Linked DNA regions of Homo sapiens. The protein of the gene in region 2 interacts with the protein of the main gene of each other region in a biochemical or structural test. Each region holds a gene or a part of one and is shown on either strand. Other genes may lie near its edges. The genes, in order: PIN1, CDC25C, MARK3 and PLK3.

Region 1 (4,900 bases), on a different chromosome or scaffold from region 2:
TGCCCACGCTGGAGTGCAGTGGCAACGATCTCAGCTCACTGTACCTTCTACCTCCCAGTTTCAAGAGAAAGCGTTTTTTTGTTTGTTTGTTTGTTTGTTTGTTTGTTTGAAATGGAGTTTCGCTCTTGTTGCCCACGCTGGAGTGCAGTGGCAACGATCTCAGCTCACTGTACCTTTCTACCTCCCAGGTTCAAGAGAAAGCGTTTTAAAAAAAAAAATCATTCCAGCTACTTGCGAGGCTGAGGCAAGAGGATTGCTGCAGCCCAGGGGTTTGAGGCCAGCCTGAACAATAAAGTGCGACCCCATCTCTGCAAAAGGAAAACAAAAACAGTCATTGCAGGCTCCCATCATAGCAGAAAATTTTCCAAGAGAGCTGGCAGGTCAGAGGCAGATCTGGGTGATATGAGCTATTGGTGTGCCAAAGTGTGGCTTTTATTTGTTTTTAAGTGGTATGGCTTGCACACTATGTGTGTGAGAGAGGACAACTTGGGCGGGCTGTCCAATTTCAGGGATCCCTGTGGCTGTGTCCCCAGCCCTGGCCGCTGGGGGCTGTGGCAAGGTGATGCTTGTTCAGGGCCTGGGCCTGGCTCCTCAGACGCTCAGTGCCTGCAGGCAGTCCTGCTTCCCCGAAGTAGGTGGGTACCTCTGGGGGCACCGTGCGATCCCCTGGCTGGCTTAGTGGTCCAGACAGAAGGGGGGACAGGGGACTCCAGTGCTCTGTGCCTAAGGCCAAGGAGATACCTAGAAGTTCAGGGAGAGGAGGGGTGGGAGGGGGTCCTAGCAACATCTGGTTTAAGTCGGAGTCACTGGTGGATGTGTCTGGCACAGAGGAGGACCCCGTGGCAGCCCTGGAAGCGGGGCATTCTGATCAAACCAGGGCATCACGGGCAGAAGCCTCTGTAATGTGCCATCCCAACAGAAGCTGGGGCCCTGTATGGCATCGATGTCCCTGTCAGACCAGGACACGTGGGCCGGCAGGGCCAAGGATAGGGAGAGCAGAGCAGTAGAGGCTGCGTCATCCCTGGGATGCAGTCCCCATGGAGGGGAAGAATGATGACAGCAAGGGACGTTGGTCAGGGTCCTGCTCGGTGCCGGGCACTATGCTGCATGTCACAGCCACTGGCACAAGACTGTCAGGCGGAGGGGCACAGGGATGTCAGGGCAGCAGGTCGTGGTGACATCCAGCTCAGATACCAGGACACTGGTGGCTGCCATGACGTGCAGCCAAACAGGGAGCTATGGCTGTGCTCTCACGGTGGTACCATTTCCACTGCAGTCCCAAGCAGGTTAGAGCGTGAGGCCGAGGGGCCCTGGGGACACTTGGATCAGTCCAGTGTGTTCAGCAGGTGCCACGGTTGGGTGTCCAGGCCTCCCAGCACTGGCTAGGTCACCCAGCAGTGTTCCCGTGGGTCTCCAACAGGCTCCAGGCCAGTGTATCAGCTATGTATGTCCTGGGCAAGTTGGCCGGCAGGTGTGTCATGGCATCATTTAGGTCAGAAGGAGCAAGGGTAGAAGTGTCAGGGTGACATTAAGAAACCCCCTACTGAGTGTGTCAGGGTGACCTTCACGTTGGAGAGAAGAACTGGTGTCCCTGGAGAGTGGCTGCCAGGCCTTAGGGTACACGGGGCGGGTGCAGTTCACCCAGAGGGCTGCCCTGGCTTGCTGGGGCTGTCGCACCACTGGCCTAGGGAGGACACTGGAAGGGACGCCCGTTTGTGTCAGAGCAAGAGGATTGGGGTAGGGCAGGCTTTGGCCCATGGGCACCTTCCTGGGGGTGGCCTGGAGTCAGGAAGGCGGTAGCCATTCCTCCTGACCTGGCACGTGCACAAGACTGCATACACACACTTGCTCACACACAGTCACACCACACACACCACGTGCACACACACGCAGCCCTCCCCACTTGGCTTCCGAAACGTGAGTCACTCAGATGCTACTCTGCTGCCGTCTTGCCCCCTCTGCTGGCAGCCCTGTTCCTCCTAACTCCACCAGCCCTGGCCTCCTCCGCCTCCTGGAGAGTCAGAGCCGATGGGCTAGTTTGGGCCACACAGGGTGGGGCCACCCTGAGTTCTGCCAGCATGCAGACTGTAGGTGGGGAGCCGGGAGAAGAGCTATGTTGCCTGCCTCTGGGACCCTGGGGCTACAGCCCACGAGTGTCCCTTGCAGAGCCCACCAGGGTGCCTTGGAGGCCCATCCCAGTGCCAGGCTGTTCTTCCCAGATGGGACAGCTGGGGCCACAGGCTGCCGTGGCAGTGCTGGGCTTTCTCTGGACAGCTCTCCCACCTCTGCCCAGGGGGCCCGGGGGGCCAGCCCCCTGCCTGGGTCAGCCTCTCCCTGCCTGCTGCTCTCCTCTGGCCCATCCAGCTTGTATGTAGATTTTCCCTCACGTGTGTGTGTGTGTGTGCATGTGTGTGTGCTGGTGAGAGTGACAGCGGGAGCAGGGATGTGAGACCTGCAGGGTGGCAGGGCTCATGGATGACTGGCGGGGTGCATTAAGTGCTCATGCTCGTGAAAGGCACCTCTTCTTGGGTGTGGGTGAGGACAGGTGTGACTGCGCATGCAGGTATGTGTGAGGAGAGGGGTTGTGGGGAGCATGTGCGCCTGTGAGGGGAGGCTTTCCAACTGAAGTGCTGCCTCCCCCGCTGGCCAGCTCTGGAGTCCTCCATCCTGTCTGGTCAGGCCCCCCCCAACCCCTGACCTGGCACTCCCATTCCGTTCCATGTCCACAGGCTACATCCAGAAGATCAAGTCGGGAGAGGAGGACTTTGAGTCTCTGGCCTCACAGTTCAGCGACTGCAGCTCAGCCAAGGCCAGGGGAGACCTGGGTGCCTTCAGCAGAGGTGCGCAAGGAATGGGCCTCACCAGGTTGGGGGACCCTTACCACCCTGAGGGGTAGAGGCCAGGAGGGTCTGGGCATTGGGCTCCCAGGTGCCACACCGGCCTTCGGGGTCCAGCAGGTGGCAGCACAGCCCCTTCCTCAGGCTTCAGAGGCTGCTCTGCTGGGCAGGGCCAGGGCCACACAGGGAGGGGGGCTGCAGCACTTTCTTCCTGGCATCATCTCTACCCTGGGGGGCATGGTCTCTTGTGTGTCTGTGCACAGATGTCCTCATCCCAGGCCCACCAAGGTGGGTACATCCTGTCCTCTGCCTCTTCCTTTTTGTGGTTTAAGGTTGAGGGCCCTGAGAGTCCCAGGGCCTGTCCCCCAGAATCCCTCTCAAAGGTGGGGAAACCAGGGGTGAGAGGAGGTGGCCCTGAGTTTAGGCCTGTCTGGCCAGGACAGTGGAAATCAGGGACAGAGGGGACTAGGCCTCCTCCTCTTCCTCCTCTTCAGTCCTCGGGGTCTACAGAAAAACATCAGGGAGAGGCCAGGATGGGTTGCAGGGTGTGGTGTGCAGGTGTCTTAGTGGGGTGGGGCGGCAGCATGGGGCCAGCAGCTGCCCACCTCCTCCGAGGAGGCTGGTGGGACAGATGACATGGCAGGGCTGGGAACCAGGCCCAGGGAGACGAGTTCACTACCGAAGTGGCCCCTAAATGCACGGCGGCGGCCGTAGCCCTGCCTGCTATCCTTCATGCTGTCCTCGGGCTTCCCAGGGCCTCCTTAATGGCCCTGCCACCCCCAGCTGGGCCGCCGCTCAGCACTGGCAATAAACATGGTGACGGATGAGTGTGGACGAGTGTGAGGCTCAGCGCAGGCAGGAGCCCCATCTGTCGCGGCTGCCACCCGCCCTGCCTCATCCTGGCCTCTGCCAGCCCAGCCCTGACACCCCCACCGCCCCTCCTGGCTCCCAGGTCAGATGCAGAAGCCATTTGAAGACGCCTCGTTTGCGCTGCGGACGGGGGAGATGAGCGGGCCCGTGTTCACGGATTCCGGCATCCACATCATCCTCCGCACTGAGTGAGGGTGGGGAGCCCAGGCCTGGCCTCGGGGCAGGGCAGGGCGGCTAGGCCGGCCAGCTCCCCCTTGCCCGCCAGCCAGTGGCCGAACCCCCCACTCCCTGCCACCGTCACACAGTATTTATTGTTCCCACAATGGCTGGGAGGGGGCCCTTCCAGATTGGGGGCCCTGGGGTCCCCACTCCCTGTCCATCCCCAGTTGGGGCTGCGACCGCCAGATTCTCCCTTAAGGAATTGACTTCAGCAGGGGTGGGAGGCTCCCAGACCCAGGGCAGTGTGGTGGGAGGGGTGTTCCAAAGAGAAGGCCTGGTCAGCAGAGCCGCCCCGTGTCCCCCCAGGTGCTGGAGGCAGACTCGAGGGCCGAATTGTTTCTAGTTAGGCCACGCTCCTCTGTTCAGTCGCAAAGGTGAACACTCATGCGGCCCAGCCATGGGCCCTCTGAGCAACTGTGCAGCACCCTTTCACCCCCAATTAAACCCAGAACCACTGCTCTGCTCTCCTGTGTCTCATTTCTCCTCAGGGAAGCATAGTGGGGAAGATGTCGTGGGGAGGGGATCATAGCCCCCCCATCCTAAGGGTCCCAGCTGCAAGTTCTCCCCCGAGGCTTCCCCTTGCCCTGGGCCAGGGGGAGTCACAGCAGCTGGCTCTTGGGGACATGGGCACTGTCCAGCTGCCCAGCACCCTGAGATCTGCTTCCCTGCCATCTCAGGGGCTTCCAGAAGGTTCGTGGGTCCAACCCGGCACCTGGCCCAGCACCCATTGCAGCTGCAGTTACCATGACAACAGGGCCCTCCCGGACTGGAGGGGGCTCCTGCAGGGAGGGGGATGGGAGCAGACATGGCTTTTAGTGCCTGAAGGTGGAGCAGAGGGAATCCTGGGGTGGGTGGCGGGGAGATGGGGTCCCCCGCCAGTGTGGGGGCTGTGGATGTGGCATGCCTGACCCCCATCCCCTGTTCAGTCGGGGGGCTGTGGGTCTGATGGAGAAGTGGTTATTCCTGCATGCCCT
Region 2 (7,028 bases):
TGATAACCTTTCTTTTCTACCCATAAGAAAAAAAAAAACTCCATAGGTAGCATAGTGTAGTGTTTCCCAACACTTGATTTCTTTTAGTGACACATATAAATTCTTACGTTTCTGTGAAATTGTACCTTGTACCATGAAATGGGTACCAATCGAGAGGCTTTGTATTCAAAAGCTCAGTCCTTGAAATTAATACGGCTTACTGGTAATGAAGAAAATCTGAAGGAAAAACAGGATGCATGGACAAGAATAACTCCTTTTACTGATTCTTTATATTTGATTGCAGGTCACCTGGATTCTTCAGGACTTCAGGAAGTGCATTTAGCTGGGATGTAAGTTCTGTTGTTAAATGAACCCCACACAAAAGCCTTTTAGCACTGGTCATAGAGATTTTATCCTGTGCAGACTCTGCAGAGTACAAAACCTTTCATACTGGGTATAAGTGGGCTTTGAGGCCTAGTTCCTTACCTTGAACAGTTTCTAAGTTTTCCACATCTAAATAGTGTTGTGAAAATGAAGGCTATTCATTTTAACCATCATAATCAGAAGTATCTATAAGGAAATGAAGGAAAATGGTATACTACACTTATGTATAGGCTTTTATTTGTATGTGAAAGGTGCTGTATCTTAGTAATTGAAAGTACAGAGTGGCCGGACACGGTGGCTTACATCTGTAATCCCAGCACTTTGGGAGGCCAAGGCAGGCGGATCAGTTGAGGTCAGCAGTTCAAGACCAGCCTGCCCAACATGGTGAAACCCCGTCTCTACTAAAAATACAAAAATTAGCTGGATGTGGTGGCACATGCCTGTAATCGCAGCTACTTCGGAGGTTGAGGTAGGAGAATTACTTGAGCCCAGGAGGCGGAGGTTGCAGTGAGCCAAGACTGCGCCACTGCCCTCCAGCCTGGGCGACAGAGCGAGACTCCGTCTCAGAAAAAAAAAAAAAAAGAAAGTACAGAGTATAAGCTCTGGAATCAGTGTGTGGATTCCTGGCTTACTACTTCATTCACCAGTTGTGACTCTGACAAGTTTTTTTTAACTTCATTGGACCTTAATTTTTTTTATTTGTAACGTGGAGACAATAATAGCATTTCTCATAAAGTAGCTATTGTAAGGAGTAAATAAACTGTGTATCTAGCACATACCAAGCATTTTACTTATGTATTTATTTTTATTTTTGAGATGGAGTCTGGCTCTGTTGCCAAGGATGGAGTGCAGTGGTGCCATCTTGACTTACTGCAACCTCTGCCTCCCTGGGTTCAAGCGATTCTCCTGCCTCAGCCTCCCGAGTAGCTGGGATTACAGGCGTCCACCACCACGCCCGGCTAATTTTTGTATTTTAGTAATACAAAAATGGAGGCTTCACCATGTTGGCCAGGCTGGTCTTGAACTCCTGACCTCAAGTGATCAGCGCCCCACCCCCACCCACCCCTTGGCCTCCCAAAGTCCTGGGATTACAGATGTGAGTCACTGGGCCCAGCTTGAATTGCTTTAAATGCTCTAACCCAGATAGATAATGAAATCCATGGAGGGAGGATAGAAATTAATTTTTTTTTTTTTTTGAGATGGAGTCTCGCTCTGTTGCCAGGATGGAGTGCAGTGGTGCGATTTTGGCTCACTACAACCTCCGCCTCCCGGGTTCAAGTGATTCTCCTGCCTCGGACTCCTGAGAGGCTGGGACTACAGGCACATGCCACGACGCCCAGCTAATTTTTGTATTTTTAGTAGAGACAGGGTTTCACCATGTTGGCCAGGACGGTCTCTATCTCTTGACCTCGTGATCCGCCCGCCTTGGCCTCCCAAAGTGCTGGAATTACAAGCGTGAGCCCCCGCGCCCAGCCTTTTTTTTTTTTTTTTTTTTTTGAGACGGAGTTTTGCTCTTGTTGCCTAGGCTTAAGTGCAATGGCGCGATCTCGGCTCACCACAACCTCTCCCTCCCGGGTTCAAGCGATTCTCCTGCCTCAGGCTCCCAAGTAGCTGGGATTACAGGCATGCGCCACCATGCCTGGCTAATTTTGTATTTTTAGTAGAGACGGGTTTCTCTGTGTTGGTCAGGCTGGTTGCGAACTCCCAACCTCAGGTGATCCGCCTGCCTCGAACTCCCAAAGTGCTGGGATTACAGGCGTGGGCCACAGCGCCCCGCCAGAAATTAAATTTTTTTAAAAAGTTAGCCCCGGCCGGGTGCGGTGGCTCACATCTGTAATCCCAGAAGTTTGGGAGGCTGAGGCGGGCGGATCACGAGGTCAGGAGATCAAGACCGTCCTGGCTAACACGGTGAAACCCCATCTCTACTAAAAATACAAAAAATTAGCTGAATGTGGTTGCAGGCGCCTGTAGTCCCAGCTACTCAGGAGGCTGAGGCAGGAGAATGGCGTGAAACCGGGAGGCAGAGCTTGCTGTGAGCCGAGGTCGTGCCACTCCAGCCTGAGTGACAGAGCCAGATTCCGTCTCAAAAAAAAAAAATTAGCCCCAATACACTGTGCTGGAAAATTAGTAAATTGTAAATTGTATAAAACTCGTTCATCTTTGGAACATGTTATATGGTTATGCAGGCAAAATGAGGGTCTTATCCCCAGGATGTCACTTGAGTCTTGATATTTACCACAGAGAATACCCTATGTATTGTTGTTGGAAGAGACATATCAACTAGGAATAGGGCTCCTAGAATGAAATAGAAAAATGTTGGGATGCACCAATCCACTGAAGAATAATCAAACAGTATTTGGGACTAACCTGACAGGCAGTTTGTTTTAATCTGCAGGAATCATGACCAGCACCTAATGAAATGTAGCCCAGTGAGTAGCCTCTCTTTTTTTGGGTTTTGTTTTGCTTTTCAGGTGGGAGGCAGAGGGTTTCCATTGCACCTGTGGCTTGAGGATGCTGGACGTTCTCAGCAAACTCTCTTTTTTAGGCACAGCTTCTTTGTAGCACTCCGAATGGTTTGGACCGTGGCCATAGAAAGAGAGATGCAATGTGTAGTTCATCTGCAAATAAAGAAAATGTGAGTGTTTAATGGAAACCTAGATATATTGGCAGTTTTATTTTTTGAGTGAAGAAACTTGGTATCATAATGAGACATAGAACTGTTTATACCTCGTATGCTAGACAAGGAAACTGTATTACTATAGGGGAGAAAATTTCTTTGTTTTTGTTTTTTCTTATTAAAGTTTGGCCCTAGGACAGACACCCAGCTCCAAATCTTCCACAGTAGGTCATCATTATTTCTCATGTTCAGTTGATCATTTTGAGGACAAAAATTACCCTTACTGTAGTGTAAGGGATTTAGGAGTTTTTTGTTTGTTTGTTTGTTTGTTTTAACAGGTAGGGATAACTTGCATAACTTGTTCATGGATTTTTTTTTACCACTTTACATGCAAGTGTAGATTAATTTCTTATTTCCCCCTTAGTCTAGCTTTTAAGCCCTTATTCCGAGGAGGCCATGGTACTTTTTATCTAAACCTTAGGCCATCCGTCGTTCCAAGTTAAATCTAGCCTCTCCGGAGCCACCTCATCACTAAGATAGTTCTGTATCTAATCCCTCATCTAAGCCCCTTTTCTAGACATCGTTTTTTCTTCCCTGCCTCCCATCCCTTTCCCCAAATCATTACCATAAAAGATAGCTGCTCTTCTTTTCTTACATTGACTTAAGATAAACTCATGTTTTCGGCTGTTCTTATCAGTTTTTTCTTGATTTAATACTGTCCTTCTAATCTCCATTTATAATCACTTTTTATTCATTTATTTTTGAAACTGAGTCTCGCTCCATCGCCCAGGCTGGAGTGCAGTGGTGCAATCTCAGCTCACTACAACCTCTGCCTCCCGGGTTCAAGTGATTCTTGTTCCTCAGCCTGCCAAATAGCTGAGACTGTAGGCACGTGCCACCACGGCCCAGCTAATTTTTGTGTTTTTAGTAGAGACGGGGTTTTGTCTTATTGGCCAAGCTGGTCTCAAACTCCTGACCTCAAGTGATCCACCTGCCTCGGCCTCTCAAAGGGCTGAGATTACAGGTGTGAGCCACTGCCTGGCCTATAATCACTTTTTTTTCTTTTTTTTTGGTGAGACAGAGTTTTGCTCTTGTTCCCCAGGGTGGAGTGCAGTGGTGCAATCTCGGCTCACTGCAACCTCTACCTCCTGGGTTCAAGCGATTTTCCTGCCTCAGCCTCCCACGTAGCTGGGATTACAGGTGCGTGCCACCACACCCAGCTAATTTTTGTATTTTTAGTAGAGACAGGGTTTCACCATGTTGACCAGGATGGTCTTGATCTCCTGACCTCGTAGTCTGCCCTCCTCTGCCCCCCAAAGTGCTGGGATTACAGCCGTGAGCCACCATGCCCGACAGCATCAATATTTTTAAAGTTTTTTTTTTTCCTCTCCCTAGAAATAAGGGTCTCACTATGTTGCCTAGGCAAATCTTGAACTCCTGGGCTCAAGCCTTAAGGTTTTGATACTTTCTCCGATTCATTTCTAAAAAAGTTACAAGAATTTACATTTTCATTAGCAATCCAAATCTCATAGAATTTACTTATTTATTTATTTATTTATTTTGAGACAGAGTCTCACTCTGTCACCCAGGCTGGAGTGCAGTGGCGCAGTCTCAGCTCACTGCAACCGCTGCCTCCCTGGTTCAAGCAATTCTCCTGTCTCAGCCTCCTGAGTAGCTGGAACTACAGGCGCATGCTGCCACGCCCAGCTAATTTTTTGTATTTTAGTAGAGATGGGGTTTCACCATCTTGCCCAGGCTGGTCTTGAACTTCTGAGCTCAGGCAATCCACTTGCCTCAGCCTCCCAAAATGCTAGGATTACAGGTGTGAGCCACCCTGCCCAGTCTTCTCATGGAATTTGTTTTTTTTTTTTTTTTGAGATGGAATCTTGCTCTGTTGTCCAGGCTGGAGTGCAGTGGGACAATCTCAGCTCACTGCAACCTCTGCCTCCCGGGTTCAAGAGATTCTCTTGCCTCAGCCTCCTGAGCAGCTGGGACTACAGGCGTGTGGCACCACGCCCAGCTAATTTTTGTATTTTTAGTAGAGACGGGGTTTCACCATATTGGCCAGGCTGATTTGAACTCCTGACCTTGTGATCCACCCACCTCGGCCTCCCAAAGTGCTGGGATTACAGGCATGAGCCACCATACCTGGACTTCTCATGGAATTTTTTAAAAAATTACTTTCTGCTGAGCAGTCTAGTTTGAGGGAAAATGCTAATTAGGCCAGATGTTGTGGCTCATCCCTGTAATCCCAGCACTCTGGGAGGCTGAGGTGAGAGGATTGCTTGAGTCCAGGACTTTGAGTTCCCTAGCTGGGGAACACAGCAAGACCACATCTCTACCCCACCCCCCAACCAAAAAAAAGAAATGGCTGGGACTTGGTGGTGCATGCCTGTAGTCTCAGGTACTCTGGAGGCCAAGGCAAGAGGATCGCCTCGGCCCAAGAGCCTGAGGCTCCAGTGAGTTATAATTGGGAGGATTGCTTGAGCACAGGAGTCTGGGGCTGCAGTCAGCTGAGATGGAGACTCAGTCTCAAATAAATAATACACACACACATACATACATGGTAAAATAGTTTATTTTATGTTAAAAATAATTAGCAGGCCAGGCATGGTGGCTCATGCCTGTAATCCCACCGCTTTGGGAGGCTGAGGCAGGTGGATCACCTGAGGCCAGGATTTGAGACCAGCTTGGCCAACATGGCAAAACCCTGTCTCTACTAAAAATACAAAAATTAGCCAGGCGTGGTGGCACCTGGCTGAGAAACAAGAATGGCTTGAACCTGGGAGGCAGAGGTTGCAATGAGCTGAGATTACACCACTGCACTCCAGTGCAGTGAATGGACAGGTGACAAAGTGAGACTGTCTCAAAAAAAAAAGGAAAAAAAAATAAAAATAAAAATAATTAGTAGTGGCTGGGTGCAGTGGCTCACACCTGTAATCCCAGCACTTTGGGAGGCTGAGGCAGGCTGATCACTTGAGGTCAGGAGTTCCAGACTAGCCTGGGCAACATGGTGAAACCCCATCTCTACTGAAAAAAAAATATGAAAATTAGCCAGGGCCGGGCGCGGTGGCTCACGCCTGTAATTCCAGCACTTTGGGAGGCCGAGGTGGGCGGATCACGAGGTCAGGAGATCGAGACCATTCTGGCTAACATGGTGAAACCCCGTCTCTACTAAAAATAGAAAAAATTAGCCGGGCATGGTGGCGGGTGCCTGTAGTCCCAGCTACTCTGGAGGCTGAGGCAGGAGAATGGCGTGAACCCGGGAGGCGGAGCTTGCAGTGAGCCGAGATCGTGCCACTGTACTCCAGTCTGGGCGACAGAGCGAGACTCCATCTCAAAAAAAAAAAAAAAAAAAAAAAAAAATTAGCCGGGCGTGGTGGCAGGCATCTGTAATCCCAGCTACCCAAGACGCTGAGGCAGGAGAATCAGTTGAACCCAGGAGGCAGAGGTTTCAGTAAGCCGAGACTGCACCACTGCACTCCAGCCTGGGCGACAGAGCGAGACTCTGTCTCAAATAATAATAATTATAGGCCGGGTGCTGTGGCTCACGCCTGTAATCCCATCACTTTGGGAGGCCGAGGCAGGCGGATCACAAGGTCAGGAGATCGAGACCATCCTGGCTAACATGGTGAAACCCTGTCTCTACTAAAAGTACAAAAAATTAGCCAGTCGTGGTGGCGGGCGCCTGTAGTCCCAGCTACTCCGGAGGCTGAAGTAGGAGAATGGCGTGAACCCGGGAGGCGGAGCTTGCAGTGAGCCAAGATCGCGCCACTGCACTCCAGCCTGGGCGACAAAGCATGTCTCTGTATCAAAAAATAAAATAAAATAATAATAATAATTAGTAGTGATTTCATGTGATTATTATCCATGCGTAATTTCTCTAGTGTCTTTTGTGCCCTTATAATACTGGGGTCTTAACTTACCCAGGCATTGACTTGCCTTTCATAGACCATGGACTCCAGAGATTTGGATTATTATTTCTAATCTCAACCCTGAGGGAAAGCTATTTTAACATATTCTATCCTATGAAGATAAAGTTGATCAT
Region 3 (7,391 bases), on a different chromosome or scaffold from region 2:
GCTCCAGGTAACTCATAGAAGAGGGATCATACAGAATTTGTCCTTTTGTGTTTGACTTATTTCACTCATCATAATGTCCTCAAGTTTCATCTGTGTTGTAGCTAATGTCAGAATTTCCCCTCTTTTTAAGGTTGAATAATATTCCATTGTATGGACATACCACATTTTGTTTAGCCATTCATCTATGGATGGACACTTGGTTTGCTTTCACATTTTAGCTATTGTGAATAATGCTGCCATGAACATGACTGTGCAGATATTTCCTTGAGACTGTGTTTTCAATTCTTTTGGGTATCTATCTGGATGTGGGATTATTAGATCCTATGGTAATTCTATTTCTAATTTTTTTCAAGAAGCATAATACTGCTTTCCATAGAAGCTGCACCATTTTACATCCCCACCAACAGTGCACAGTTTCCAATTTCTCCACGTTCTTGCCAAAATTTGTTATTTTCTGCTTTTTTGGTAGCAGCTATCCTAATGGCTTTGAGACTCAGTTTCTCGTCTGTCCCACAGGGACATAGTAGGGCTAGATTATCTCTAGCTTCTGATGTCTCATGGTGCCTTCCTTCTTGCCATGAAAGTAAGTATTGCTTATGCACATATACATCTTAGTAAATTTAGTTATATCTTTTCAGCTTGGGGCCCCAAGGTAGAAACTATTTTAATATGAAGACAGGAAACAAGAAATATGAAAAGGGATTGAAGAAGGCATTCCAAGGACAACTTCCAAACCCTCCTCTCTATTCCTTCCAGACCATAGATGCACATAATTCTGGGCCACAGAGAGTCCTTTGGACAGAACAATACTTTACTGTTTCTTCTCTTCCTCTCCTTTTCTTTTTTGCTTGTAATTCACACACCCAGGTGGCTAGGCGCAGTGGATCACACCTGTAATCCCAGCACCTTGGGAGGCAGAGATGGGAGGGTTGCTTGAGGCCGGAAGTTCAGTCTGGGCAAGACTTGGTCTCTAAAAATAAATTACCTAGGTATGGTGGTGCATACCTGTAGTCCTAGCTATTCAGGAGGCTGAGGCAAAGAATCACTTGAGCCCCGGAGTTCAAGGCTGCAGTGAGCTATGATCACACCACAGTGCCCCAGCCTGGACAAGAGAGCAAGACCCTGTCTGGCTCAAGCAACAACAAAGGAAGGAAGGAAGAAGGAAGGAAGGAAGGAAGGAAGGAAGGAAGGAAGGATGGATGGAAGGGAGGGAGGGAGGGAGGGAGGAAGGAAGGGGAAAAAGAGAGAGGAAGGGAGGGAGGGAGGGAGGAAAGAGAGAAAAAGGCAGGCAGGCAGGGCAAGAAAGAGACAAAGAGAAAGAAAGAAAGAGAGAAAGAAAGAAGAAAAAAGAAACACACACACCCATCTCCCACTCTTTATAGTGTCATGATGTCATTTAACATAAGTGCAAGGAAAAGTTCAAGGCGTTTAATTCTAGCTTTTACAAAACCCAGAAGCATCTTGAGTTAAGTACTATTATCTTCATTTCCTAACTTTTGGCATTCGCTGACTCATTATTTCATATGTGGCTTGGGTGAGAAAAGCATCTGGGTGGCAACCTCCTCCCCCAGCTACTTCTCTGGCCAATGGGGACTGTTCTGAACTTCCCATACACTTTCTCGCAGCTTCTGCCTGAGGCTGAAACCCTTTCTGGGGTGTTTTCCCAACTGTCATCAGGATGGGATGCAGAACCAGGTGCCATGCTCTGTCCAAACCCTGCCTGGCTCCGGCCTTCTGCAGTCTCACTTCTCACCGCTCACTCTCCTGATATTTACCCAGACCCACCGTGTGGCTTCTCATTGCGGTGCTCATCAGGCCATCCTTCTGCTTGAACTGTCCTTTCTACCCATCCTCCCACAGCTAACTCTGCTCATGCTTTTAGACTCAGCATAAACATCCTCTCCCCCAGGAAGCCTTCCCTGATCCAAACCCCCGAGTTGAGCTAAATGTCCCTGCTTGGGTCTCCCACAACACTTATGCTCACCCCGTCTTATCATAACCAACATTGCAGTTGAAGTGTGTGAAGCACACATTTAACTAATGGAATTCCACTAACTCCTCTTGGCCAGAAGGAGAAAGAGAATAACTTTATTTATTTATTTACTTATTTATTTATTTCTGAGGCATGTTCTTGCTCTGTCTCCCAGGCAGGAGTGCAGTGGGCATCATCCTTCTGCCTTTTTTTTTTTTTTAAGTTTTTGTAGAGACAAGGTCTCACTCTGTTGCCCAGGCTGGTCTCCAACTCCTGGGCTCAAGTGACCCTCCCACCTCAGGCCCCCAAGTAGCTGGGATTACAGATGTGCATGCCGTCTCCCTATTCACATTTTATTTTACTTTATTTTGTTTTTTGAGACGCAGTCTTGCTCTGTTGCTCAGGCTGGAGTGCAGTGGGCTGATCTTCGCTCACTTCAACTCTGCCTCCCAGGTTCAAGAGATTCTCTCACCTCAGCCTCCTTAGTAGCTGGGACTACAGGCACACACCACCGTGCTTGGTTAATTTTTTGTATTTTAGCAGAGATGGGGTTTCACCATGTTGGCCAGGCTGGTCTGAAACTCCTGAGCTCAGGCAATCCGCCCACCTCGGCCTCCCAAAGTGTTAGGATTACAGGCGTGAACCACCGCGCCCGGCCCCTATTCACATTTTAAATAGAACCACTCTTGGCCCCCTGACCACTCCTCTCTGAGGGTTAGATGGGAGCCCTGAGTGTTACCTTAGTCCTCAGGTGTTTTAACATTGGGAGCCTCTGGCCTCTCTGGGAGTGAATCTGGCGTTTAAAGATACATATATTTGGCCGAGCGCAGTGGCTCACGCCTGTAATCCCAGCACTTTGGGAGGCCGAGACGGGCAGATCACAAGGTCAGGAGATCGAGACCATCCTGGCTAAGACGGTGAAACCGCATCTCTACTAAAAATACAAAAAAAATTAGCCAGGCATGGTGGTGGGCACCTGCAGTCCCAGCTACTCGGGAGGCTGAGGCAGGAGAATGGCGTGAACCCGGGAGGTGGAGCTTGCAGTGAGTGGAGATCGCGCCACTGCACTCCAGCCTGGGCGACAGAGCGAAACTCCGTCCCAAAACAACAACAACAACAACAACAACAACAAACATATATTTCGTGGAGCAAGAAATGTCTCAAACATAGCAAGAGAGTTGGGATGCCAACGGACCAAAGGGAAAGCAAGCATGACATAGCCCCCCACTACAAGGGCTTACCTATTATCCAAGCTTTGGGAGCTAGGTTAGAATCCCAGCTCTGTCGCTAACCAACCTGTGTACTTTAGCCAAGTCACTGTACCTGTCTAGACTTCGGATCGCATGTGTGTCTGCCCATCTCATAGGGTTACCCTGAGGCTAAATGAGGTAACAAATGTCATGAACCCACAAGGTAGACTCGACTCTCGGTAACAGTTCGTGTCACCCCCATCTCACACTACTCTCCCTCTTCGGACCCTGCACCCATGGATTCCATCCACCGCTGGCCAGGAGCTGAGTAGAGGCACCGAGCACGTGAAGAGGTGAATGGGCAAGGAAGGCTTCCAGGTCAGGTAGCATTTCCAGTGTTCCAGCCTGCAGGCATCTACCGAGCCTGGCCCGAGGCTGGCACCCAGAGATGCTTCCAGTCTTCCAGCAGCAACGCACTGACTGTAAGAAAAGCCTGCTTATAAACCCCCTACAGGCATTTGGAAGCTGGTCCCTGGGGTCCTCTACAGATTCATTTCGCCCCCAAACCCATCCCCTTTGTGCCACCCTCGTTATTGCACTCTTCCATCCGGATGGCATTTAGCTGGGTCCGGGTCTGTCACCCGTCTGACCACCAGCTCCTTGAGGGCAAGAGGCGCCTGCTGCCCTCAGGGTCCGCGCCCAGCCCGCAGCTGCTCAGATCCGGAGACGGGAAGGTTTGTTGGCGAGAACCTGACTCCCGGGTCACAGTTAAGGATGCAAGAGCCCGGCGCCTTCCCGTAGCCCCGGCCCTGTCATTAATTAATGCTGGGGCTCCATTCGGTGCAGCGCAGTCCCAGGGATGCAACCGCAACTTTTGCGCACAATAGGCTCTCGATCTGTAATCCAGCCAACCCAGGCCTGTAGTGTGTAAATGCCAACTCAGCGGGAGGGCTCTGGCTGTCGCCCAGAGCCGTTTCTCGGCTCTTTCGCGGTTGCCGGCGCGCTCGGGACAGGAGGAACCCGCAGCCCGCGGGAGTCAGCGGAGACCCGACCAGCACTATCCAGCCCTCTGCACCGCCCCCGCGGCGAGGTCTGGACCAAGTCGCCCCTAGCAACAACAGCCGGGCCGGCTTTCTCAGGCCATGCTGATTGGCGGGACTCCGGGTGGCGGCCTGTCGTCACTTCCGGCAGCCGGAGGCAGCAGAGGAAGCCGAGGGGCGGCCATCTTGGCTCCGTGAGGCTCTGAGGTGCCGGGGTGCGGCGGCGGCAGCGGCGGCCAGCAGGGCGGAGGCTGAGGCAGCAAGCTCGCTAGAGAGGGAGAAGCAGTCGGGCGCAGGCGCCTCCTCCGCAGCCCGCTCCATGGTCGGCGCCCACAGCCCGCGGCGGCCTGTCTTGCGCTCCACTTCCTTCACATCCTCCTCCGCCTCCTCGTTTTCAGGCGCCGCCGGCGGCGCTGTGTGGAGGCCCGCGAGCTGAAATTCGCGGTGCGACGGGAGGGAGTGGAGAAGGAGGTGAGGGGGCCCAGGATCGCGGGGCGCCCTGAGGCAAGGGGACGCCGGCGGGCCGAAGCGCAGCCCGCCGCCCGCAGGCTCGGCTCCGCCACTGCCGCCCTCCCGGTCTCCTCGCCTCGGCCGCCGAGGCAGGGAGAGAATGAGCCCCGGGACCCGCCGGGGGACGGCCCGGGCCAGGCCCGGGATCTAGACGGCCGTAGGGGGAAGGGAGCCGCCCTCCCCACGGCGCCTTTTCGGAACTGCCGTGGACTCGAGGACGCTGGTCGCCGGCCTCCTAGGGCTGTGCTGTTTTGTTTTGACCCTCGCATTGTGCAGAATTAAAGTGCAGTAAAATGTCCACTAGGACCCCATTGCCAACGGTGAATGAACGAGACACTGAAAACGTAAGTAACCTGGGCGTTGTAGTTGGCGGACCTTCGGGGTGGCATTCGTGCTCCTCGGGCAGTGCCTTGCAGTCGGGTGTTCCCCCCAGCCGAACGCTCTGGAAATAGAGGGCAGGCCGTAGTCACCCAGGAGGCAGCCAGGTCGGACCGTTTCCTCCAGAAGTCTGCCGTGTCCCGCTGTTCGCGGGCGGGTCTGCGAAGTACATCGATTATGCCGGCAGTCTAGTCGGTTAATAAAGCCCAGGAGTTGCAGCGTTACGGATCGGTGCTTTGAGAGGCCAGGTTGCCGCGCAATGGATTGTGCAAACGTGTGTGTCAGATCACTGCAGTGGTCAGTGCTTATTTTAGCCGAACTCTGCTTTTAACTTGGTCAGGCAGTTCTTGAGAGACTGTCACATTAATAACATATGTTACCGGTGCTGATTAAGAGTAATCGATTGGGTCAAGTGGGCGGTCTCGTTCTTTAAGATGGTCTGGAACTAAATTTAATCACAGTCACTAAGTGTCCACTGAGGGATCTTTGCGGTCCCCTTAGGAATTCCAAAACACTAGCGCGCAGCCTTTATTAAGGCAGTTTCCTTTCCATACAAATCTTTTTTGAAGGAGTTGGTTAAACATTTTGAAAAGCAGATGTATAGTGAAGCTCTGCTCTGCCACTCACTGCCTAGCTGAGGGACACCCGCTGGGGGCTTCGCTGTCCTCCTTCCTAAAAAGAGATTGGCTTAGATGAGCTCTTAGGTCCCTTTCAGCGCTCACAGGCTATGGTTTTATAAAAGGAACCTTTGATTTTGTTCATGTGAAACTACAAAATGCCAGGAACAGCATTGCTAGAGAATGAGAACTTGTAGTAGAAATTCCATTGAAGAAACGTTTGACTCTGTTCGTTTTCTAACTCTGTTCTCCTCTAACACTGGGTTCAAAAGTGTTTCAATCTAGTTGTTGACTATATTCTGTAAAACATCTAGTAAATAATTTGTAAAGAAACTTCACTGGCCTTTCATTAAAAGTGTTATGAGGTAATTGCTGGCACGAAATGTCTTCTCTTAGGGAATGCTTCCTTGCTTTGAGTGTTTTCATGCTTTCAGTAATGTCCTGAGATGTTGTGGCCTAGTGGAGTTAATGCTTTCATTTTGATCTTCAAAAATGCCGCTTGTTTGCTGGATAGCTGTTTGATAATTTAATCCGTAAACGTAAACCATAGCCTAAAGCATCCCTGTAGCATATTAGTATACAATATTTAATGCTCTGTGGCCCTGAGTAAGTAGAACAGTGATGTACCTTTCTCCACCTGAGATAGATTAGAAAATTATATAAAGAGTGAGTAATAGAAACTCTTAGACTAGGTGAGTCAGGGAACTAATTTCCTTATAGTCCTTTTAAAGAAACCTTATTTATTTGTTTATTTATTTATTTATTTACTTATTTATTTTTTGAGACAGACCGAGACTGTCTCCCAGGCTGGAGTGCAGTGGTGCGATCTTGGCTCACTGCAGCCTCCACCTCCCAGGCTGAAGTGATTATCATGCCTCAGCCTCCCGAGTAGCTGGGATTACTGGCGTGCACCACCACGCCCGGCTAATTTTTGTATTTTTAGTAGAGACAGGGTTTCACCATGTTGGCCAGGCTGGTCTAGAACTCCTGGCCTCATGTGATCCACCCGCCTCGGCTCCCCAAAGTGCTGAGATTACAGGCATGAGCCAGTGTGCCCAACTGATTAGTTTTGATCATTGATCTTCACTCAGAGAAGCAAAACCTTACATTGAACCAGAGTAGGAGCTCCATGCTTTCTAAACTGAAGCCAAAAACAGTCATAGCAGATTTGTGATAATGAAGGATTTCAAATGGGTCTTTTTTCTTTCTTTCTTTTTTGAGATGGAGTCTGGCTCTGTCTCCCAGGCTGGAGTGCCGTGGCATGATCTCGGCTCACTGCAACCTCCGCCTCCCGGGTTCAAGTGATTCTCCTGCCTCAGCCTCCTGAGTAGCCAGGATTACAGGCATGTGCCACCACTCCCGGCTAATTTTGTATTTTTAGTAGAGACGGGGTTTCTCCATGTTGGTCGTGCTGGTCTCAAACTCCCGACTTCAGGTGATCCTCCCGCGTCAGCCTCCCAAAGTGCTGGGATTACAGGCGTGAGCCACCACGCCCAGCCATGTAGTGTATTTAAAATGAATTTTTGACTTTTTTTAAAAATCAAGTTTATCACACATCGTTGCATTAATTTACCATGCCCTGTTACATTTTTAACTCTTGCATTGGCATGTTCTGGAAGGAGCTGTGTAGCTTTCACAGTGTGGAGCCCTTGTGTCAGTGTTATAACTCAGGTATAGTCCATAT
Region 4 (7,506 bases), on a different chromosome or scaffold from region 2:
GACTCACTCTTCTTCTTTCTGCCAAAGAGGCTCTTGGTAACTTTGGCAAACAGACTCCTAGCTGGGTTGGGGGGTGTCAGGTCTGGGACTGTCACGCAGCTGCTGATAGGGAGTCGATCGGGGGTGTAGCCCTAGGGAGGGGAACCATGTGAACAGAGAAGAGAGGCTCCAGGGGTCCTGTCACCTGCCCCCTTTCAATCCCTGGGAATACACAGATGGACTTAGAGGTCTGGGGAGCCACAGACCTTGGTAAAGAAGTCATGGCGCAGGATCTGGTCAATAGAGGGGCGGTCTCGGGGTGAGGCCCGAAGGATGGCGGCCAGGAGCTGCCGGGCAGGCAGTGAGAGGCTGGCAGGCAGCGTGTAGTGAACCTGCTTGATGCAGCGGTACGTCTCCTTCAGGTCAGCCGTCTCAAAGGGAGGGCTCCCGCAGAGCAGCGTGTACCTATAGGGCAGGGCCAAGGGGTCAGGAGTAAAGTGGAGGAGATGCTCCACCCACACACCCACCACCTGTCTGCTGCTGAACCTGGACCCTGCAACTCACATGACACAGCCCAGTGACCATACATCCGCCTCAGGGCCGTGGCCCTGTCTCAGCAGCACTTCTGGAGCCACATAGTTGGGGGTGCCACAGATGGTCCTGAAAGAGGGTGGGGAGGAGGAGAGAAGGCTGAGACCCAGCCCAGCAGCCCCCCGACTCCTTCCCCCACTGTTAGTCCAGACAAAGCAGCTGCCTGTCACCAAAGGCCAGAGAACTCCTGCTTGTCCTGGGACAATGGATGCCAGGGATGGCAGCTGAGTCCCCGCCCACCCGCCTGGCCCAGCTGCTCAGCTGCTCTTCATGACAGGGGGAGGGCCTGACCCCCAGCCCAGTCCTCTCCTCTAGGGTCAACACAGAGAGTCCACAGCTGATCCCTTCCCCCTTCCTGCACTCCTGTCTGTCAGACAGGCATCAGGCTGTCACCTCCCACGGTTTGTGCCACACACACACCAACACCAGCTGTCACAACCCCCATAAACACTCATCTGCCACATACGCTATCTGTGTCACACACACAAAGTATGATGGCCACAGCAGGGTCTTCTTACACCCACAATGTCATATCCCACCATTTCCACACTCTCAGTCTGTCTCTCACACACACATACACGCTGCCTGTCACCTTCCCCCATCCACACAAAGGGTAAGTCATGTGCCTCCAAGAATCTGTATACCCCCATCTGTCTCAGGGACTCAGAGTCACCTACCCTATCTGTGTCATACACCTATAGGATCCTCCCCCTCTCCACCGGTCTCGGTAACACAGGCTGCCACCTCCACCTTCACACATGCATGAACAGCCCATCATCCCTTCCCATTTATCTCATGCACACATCAGGCAGTCACCTTGCCTCCCACATACATATGCACTGTCTATCACGCATGTCATCTGTATCACACACAGGGCCCCTTTCCTCAAAACTCACTTCTTCCTCTGCTCCGGAGGCTCCAACCGGGCTGCCAGCCCAAAATCCCCCACCTTCAGTTCCATGTTCTCAGTGATGAAAAAATTTCCTAGATGGGGCAAGAGAGGTGTGTCAGATTCTTTCCTTCCTCCCTCCCTCCCTCCCTCCCCAACCTCCCATCCTCCAGGCTCAGGAGTCTCACCCAACTTGAGGTCCCGGTGCAAGATGCCGCGCTGGTGCAAGTACTTGAGGCCAGAAAGGATCTGCCGCAGGTAGTAGCGCACTTCTGGCTCCAACAGGGTGTGCCGGGCCTTCCAGATGTGGGCCAGGGACTGCAGAGAGCCACTGCCTCAGCCCCTGGTGAGCCCTCCCTCCCCCTCCCCCTCCATCTGTGCTCCCTGAGGAAGAAACAGGGCCCCAGCTTTGGGTCTTAAGACTGTCTTCTCGGCTGGGTGTAGTGGCTCACGCCTGTAATCCCAGCACTTTGGGAGGCCAAGGCAGGTGTATCACAAGGTCAGGAGTTTGAGACCAGCCTGACCAACAGGGTGAAACCCTGTCTCTACTAAAAATACAAAAATTAGCCGGGCGTGGTGGTGCATGCCTGTAATCCCAGCTACTCAGGAGGCTGAGGCAGGAGAATTGCTTGAACCCGGGAGGCAGAGATTGCAGTGAGCCGAGATCGCGCCACTGCACTCCAGCCTGGGCAACAGAGCAAGACTCCATCTCAAAAAAAAAAAAAAAAAAAAAAAAGACTGTCTTCTCTCCCTCACTCTCATCCCTGCGGGAATCACCATCTTTCACCTTTCGGCTGCAGAGCTCCAAGAAAATGTAGATGTTGTCAGCGTCCTCAAAGTGGTGCGAAAAACGCACGATGTGGCGGTGCTGCAGGTCTCGGTGCAGCTCAATCTCATTTAGGATCTGCGATGAGGGCGCGGAGTCGTCATCCTTCCATGGTTCCCATGCCACCGTCCCCACCCCACCCCTCGCCCGCTGAGCCTGGACCCACCTTCTCGCGCTGATGCGGCTTGGCGACGCGGCTCTGCGGGATGACTTTGACAGCGTAGGCGCTGCCAGTCTCTGTGTCAGTGGCCTCGTAGCAGCGGGCGAAGCCCCCCTGTGAAGAGGGGGCATCAGGCTGGTTGTTCCAGGGGGGCCGAGTCTGGCCCGCGGGCGTCCCCGCGTTGGGGGTCAAGTGCCCACGCCCTGCTCGGCGCCAGAAAAGAGGCCGGCCGGGACCCCCACCTCCACCATCACCACCCCGCGGACGTCCCTCGGCCCACCTTGCCCAACAAGCGGCCTTTGAGGTAGGTGCGGCCGCTGCGCGGGTCCGTGATGAGGCGCCCGGGGTCTGACGTCGGTAGCCCGGCCAGCATCTCCAGCTCAGGTCCGCGCAAGGCACTCGGAGGCGGCCCGGGCCCGGCCGGGGGAGCGGGCGCGGCGGCCGCACGCTGGAAGGGGCGCGGAGACAGGAAACCGGCGGCAGGCTCCATGCGGCCGGCGCGTCGCAGCGCGGTCCCGGCTTCTCGGTTCCGCCCGGCCCCGGCCGCGCGTGGCGCTGCCTGGATTTGCTACGCTGCGCTGGCGCCCAGGGGAGCCCAGCGTTTTATCAATGAACGCCTGCCCCCTCCCCGGCGTCTGGTCACCGAGAGTCCCGCCCCCTTCCTAGCAGCGAGTCGAGGAGAGGCCACTCCCATTCCCGGCCTTACATCACCCAGAAGCTCCTCCCCCACCCAACGCACTGCCAGACCCCGCCTCCTCGCCGCGCCCCGGGGCGCAGCCCGGCAGCTAGTCACCATGCAGGTGCAACCAGGCCGCAGGGGCCAGCTGATCCCTGTCCGCCTCTCACCCCTCCTTGGCCACTGCGAGTCCCGCTCGTGGGGGCCTCTTTCTTTCCCCATCCTTCGGGATGTGTGCTGAAGTCCGAGTGGGGCCCGGGCATCTGGGGGCGTCTCCCCAGCAACTAGATAGATCAGCGTTCCAGCCAGCAGCGGAGAGGCAGGGGCGGCGCTCGCTTTTGCCCGGGCATGTTACCCGACACTCCCCTTTCAGTGTGCCGGACCGCGTGTGTCCCTCGCCCTCGCCCGGGGCCCGGCCCAGTGCTGCCCTCTTTAGGGCCTGGAAGGAAGGCACAGTCTCGCGCCTGGCTTGCCTGGCCCGAGGGCTGCCTTGCCAGGTTTAGGAGTCAAGCAGAGTCTGGAATTTCAAGGCTTTTACCATGCTCCAGGCCACATCTTCCGCTACCCACTTCTACACTCTTGAGGGGCAAATTTCGGGTTCCTCCGGGGTCCGCAATTCCCTTCCTCTGAAAATACCCCCGGGCCTGGGTCAGCAGCCAGAGGCCAGAAAGTGAATGGGAATTGGATTTTCTTTTTTCTTTCTTTCTTTCTTTTTTTTTTTTTTGAGACAGAGTTTCGCTCTTGTTGCCTAGGCTGGAGTGCAATGGCGCGATCTTGGCTCATCGCAAACTCTGCCTCCCAGGTTCAAGCGATTCTCCTGCCTCAGCCTCCCGAGCAGCTGGGATTACAGGCATGCGCCATCACACCCGGCTAATTTTGTATTTTTTTTTTTTTAAGTAGAGACGGGGTTTCTCCATGTTGGTCAGACTGGTCTGGAACTCCCAACCTCAGGTGATCTACCCGCTTCGGCGTCCCAAAGTGCTGGGATTACAGGCGTGAGCCACCTTGCCTGGCTGGGAATTGCATTTTCTCAAATGCTAGACACGGGCACTTGGGCAGCTAGTCTCTGGACCACGTGGACCCCTAGACCCCTGCGCAATGCCCACCCTTCCCAGGGCCAGAGACAGAGGCCCAGGACCACAGGCCTCCTGGCCTTGTCTCTCACCTCTCTGCCCTCCCTCTGTGCCAGCCAATCAATTACCATGCCATTCCTCAAAGATTTATTGAGAGCATCTGCTAAGTGCTGGACACTATCTCGAATAAAACTAATCAAGCTTGCAGCCCTCATTTAGTTTACATTCTGCTTGATGGAAACAGACAATAGGCAAGCAGATAAACAAGGTAATTGCAGGCTGTGAAAAGTGCTATGAAGGAAGAATAAACAGAAGAGCAAATGAAGAGCCTACTTTAGAAAGAGTAGCCAGGAAAGTCAACAAATATTTGCTGAGTACCCAATTTGTGCCAATTTTACCTCCCAAATAGCTCTGATATCTATCCCCTTGGCTCCATCTTCCCCTCACACCCTGGCCTGGGCCACAGTCTCTCTTGTCAGGATGATTGCCACAGCTCCTTGCTGCTCTCCTGGCCTTTGGTCTCATGCCCATTTCATCCCCTCCATATGCTATTAGAGGGATCCCACCCAATCCCTCATCAGACTCACGAGGGCAAACTTCTCCAACCTTGTCCTTCATGACCACTGAAGGGAGACCCACGATAGCCTCAGATGTGGAGAAATACTAGTAGCCAAAATTACTGAGGGGGAGTTGGGGATAGGGATGGGCAGGAAGACCCTAAGTGCCTGCTCAAGAGTCTGGTCTTTATCCTTATAGGTCAGCAGTCTTCCAGAGGGGAGATGGTGGTGGGGCTAGAAAGGACAAATCCCCAGGGTAAATGGATCTGAGGCATTTAGAGAGTCAAAAAGGCATATTCAATTTTGCACCGTTATTTATTTTGTTTTGTTTTGTTTTGTTTGTTTTTTGAGACAGAGTCTTGCTCTGTTACCCAGGCTGGAGTGCAGTGATGCGATCCTGGCTCACTGCAACCTCTGCCTCCCCGGTTCAAGCGATTCTCCTGCCTTAGCCTCCAGAGTAGCCAGGATTACAGGCTCGTGCCACCACGCCCAGCTAATTTTTGTATTTTTTAGTAGAGACAGGGTTTCACCATATTGGCCAGGCTGGTCTCAAACTCCTGACCTTGTGATCCACCCACCTCGGCCCTCCCAAAGTGCTGGGATTACAGGCATAAGCCACTGTGCCTGGCCCAAAATTCGTGTATATATATATATATATATATATTTTTTTTTTTTTTCTTTTTTTTTGAGACAGAGTCTTAAAAAAAAAAGAATCACTTGATCCCAGGAGGGGGAGGTTGCAGTGAGCTGAGATCGTGGCACTGCATTCCAATCTGGCAACAGAAGGAGACTCCATCTAAAAAATAATAATAATAATAAAATAAATAAATTTTGGGGCCGTGCAGTGGTGGCTCATGACTGTAATCCCTGCACTTTGGGAGGCTGAGACAGGCAGATCGCTTGAGTCCAGGAGTTTGAGACCAGCCTGGGAAGCATAGTGAAACCCCCGTCTCTACCAAAAAAATGCAAAAATTGGGCCAGCCGCAGTGGCTCATGCCTGTAATCCCAGCACTTTGGGAGGCCGAGGCAGGCAGATCACCTGAGGCCAGGAGTTCGAAACCAGCCTGACCAATGTGGTGAAACCCCGTCTCTACTAATAATACAAATATTAGTCTGGCGTGGTGGCACCCACCTGTAATCCCAGCTACTCAGGAGGCTGAGGCAGGAGAATCGCTTGAACCTGGGAGGTGGAGGTTGTAGTGAGCCAATATCGCCCCATTGCACTCCAGCCTGGGTGACAGAGTGAGACTCTATCTCAAAAAAAAAAAAAAAAAAGTTAGCTAGGTGGGCATGGTGGCAGGCGCCTGTAATCCCAGCTACTCTGGAGGCTGAGGCAGGAGAATCGCTTGAACCCAGGAAGCAGAGGTTGCAATAAACCAAAATCACGCCACTGCACTCCAGCCTGAGTATGACAGAGTGAGACTCCATCTGAAAAAAAAAATACAAAATTTATCAGGGCGTGGTGGCTCACGCCTGTAGTCCCAGCTACTCAGGAGGCTGAGGCATGAGAATCACTTGAACCCAGGAGGTGGAGGTTGCACTGAGCTGAGATCACACCACTGCACTCCAGCCTGGGTGACAGAGAGAGATTCTGTCTCCAAAACAAAACAAAACAAAAATTAGCTGGGTGTGGTGGTGCATGCCTGTAATCCCAGCTACTTGGGAGGCTGAGGTGGGAGAATCACTTGAGCCCTGGAGGTCTAGGCTACAGTGAGTCATGATCATGCTGCTGCACTCCAGCCTGGGAGACACAGAGCTTGTCTCAAAAATATATATAGGGCCGGGCGTGGTGACTCATGCCTGTAATCCCAGCACTGGGAGGCCGAGGCCGGCAGATCACCTGAGGTCAGGAATTCGAGACCAACCTGGCCAACATGGTGAAACTCCATCTCTACTAAAATACAAAAATTAGCCGGGCATGATGGCAGGTGCCTGTAATCCCAGCTACTTGGGAGGCTGAGACAGAATTGCTTGGACCCGAGAGACAGTGGTTGCAGTGAGCCGAGCTCGTGCCACTGCACTCCAGCGTGGGTGGCTGAGCGAGACCCCATCTCAAAAAAATATACATATATTTATATGTATATATTTTTAATATATATTTATATATTTTTATATTATATTTATATATCTTTATATATTTATATATTATATTTATATATCTTTATATATTTATATATCTTTATATATTTATATATCTTTATATATTTATATATCTTTATATATTTATATATTTATATATCTTTATATCTTTATATATCTTTATATATGTTTATTTATATATATTTATATATGTTTATATATTTATATTTATATATTTATATATATTTATATATTTATATTTATATATTTATATATATTTATATATATTTATATATTTTTATATATTTATATATTTATATATATTTATACATTTATATATTTATATATATTTATATATATATTTATATATTTATATATATTTTTTATATTTATATTTATATATTTATATATATATTTATATTTATATATTGTTATATATTTTTATATATATTTATATTTATATATTGTTATATATTTTTATATATTTATATATTGTTATATATTTATATATTTATATATTGTTATATATTTTTATATATATTTATACATTTATATATTTATATATATTTATATATTTATATATATTTTTTATATTTATATTTATATATTTATATATATTTATATTTATATATTGTTATATATTTTTATATATATTTATATTTATATATTGTTATAT

Evidence for each region.
Region 1: the proteins of CDC25C (region 2) and PIN1 interact in a test that uses a peptide from one of them, tested with the Homo sapiens proteins (2 studies listed by BioGRID, with this or other methods).
Region 3: of the proteins of CDC25C (region 2) and MARK3, one has a biochemical effect on the other in vitro, tested with the Homo sapiens proteins (3 studies listed by BioGRID, with this or other methods).
Region 4: of the proteins of CDC25C (region 2) and PLK3, one has a biochemical effect on the other in vitro, tested with the Homo sapiens proteins (2 studies listed by BioGRID, with this or other methods).

What each region holds. Positions count from the first base shown.
Region 1 is NC_000019.10:9,845,301-9,850,200, forward strand, and holds the end of PIN1 (peptidyl-prolyl cis-trans isomerase NIMA-interacting 1), read left to right. Parts: intron 1-2,729; coding exon 2,730-2,840; intron 2,841-3,789; coding exon 3,790-3,899; 3' UTR 3,900-4,389; downstream 4,390-4,900. UniProt on the Homo sapiens protein: Peptidyl-prolyl cis/trans isomerase (PPIase) that binds to and isomerizes specific phosphorylated Ser/Thr-Pro (pSer/Thr-Pro) motifs.
Region 2 is NC_000005.10:138,321,785-138,328,812, reverse strand, and holds part of CDC25C (M-phase inducer phosphatase 3), read left to right. Parts: intron 1-283; coding exon 284-329; intron 330-2,758; coding exon 2,759-2,792; intron 2,793-2,908; coding exon 2,909-2,998; intron 2,999-7,028. UniProt on the Homo sapiens protein: Functions as a dosage-dependent inducer in mitotic control. Tyrosine protein phosphatase required for progression of the cell cycle. When phosphorylated, highly effective in activating G2 cells into prophase.
Region 3 is NC_000014.9:103,381,025-103,388,415, forward strand, and holds the start of MARK3 (MAP/microtubule affinity-regulating kinase 3), read left to right. Parts: upstream 1-4,390; 5' UTR 4,391-5,005; coding exon 5,006-5,056; intron 5,057-7,391. UniProt on the Homo sapiens protein: Serine/threonine-protein kinase. Involved in the specific phosphorylation of microtubule-associated proteins for MAP2 and MAP4. Phosphorylates the microtubule-associated protein MAPT/TAU. Phosphorylates CDC25C on 'Ser-216'.
Region 4 is NC_000001.11:44,795,893-44,803,398, reverse strand, and holds the start of PLK3 (serine/threonine-protein kinase PLK3), read right to left. Parts: upstream 3,023-7,506; 5' UTR 2,936-3,022; coding exon 2,726-2,935; intron 2,560-2,725; coding exon 2,452-2,559; intron 2,364-2,451; coding exon 2,247-2,363; intron 1,778-2,246; coding exon 1,648-1,777; intron 1,555-1,647; coding exon 1,467-1,554; intron 640-1,466; coding exon 544-639; intron 445-543; coding exon 246-444; intron 132-245; coding exon 8-131; intron 1-7. UniProt on the Homo sapiens protein: Serine/threonine-protein kinase involved in cell cycle regulation, response to stress and Golgi disassembly. Polo-like kinases act by binding and phosphorylating proteins that are already phosphorylated on a specific motif recognized by the POLO box domains.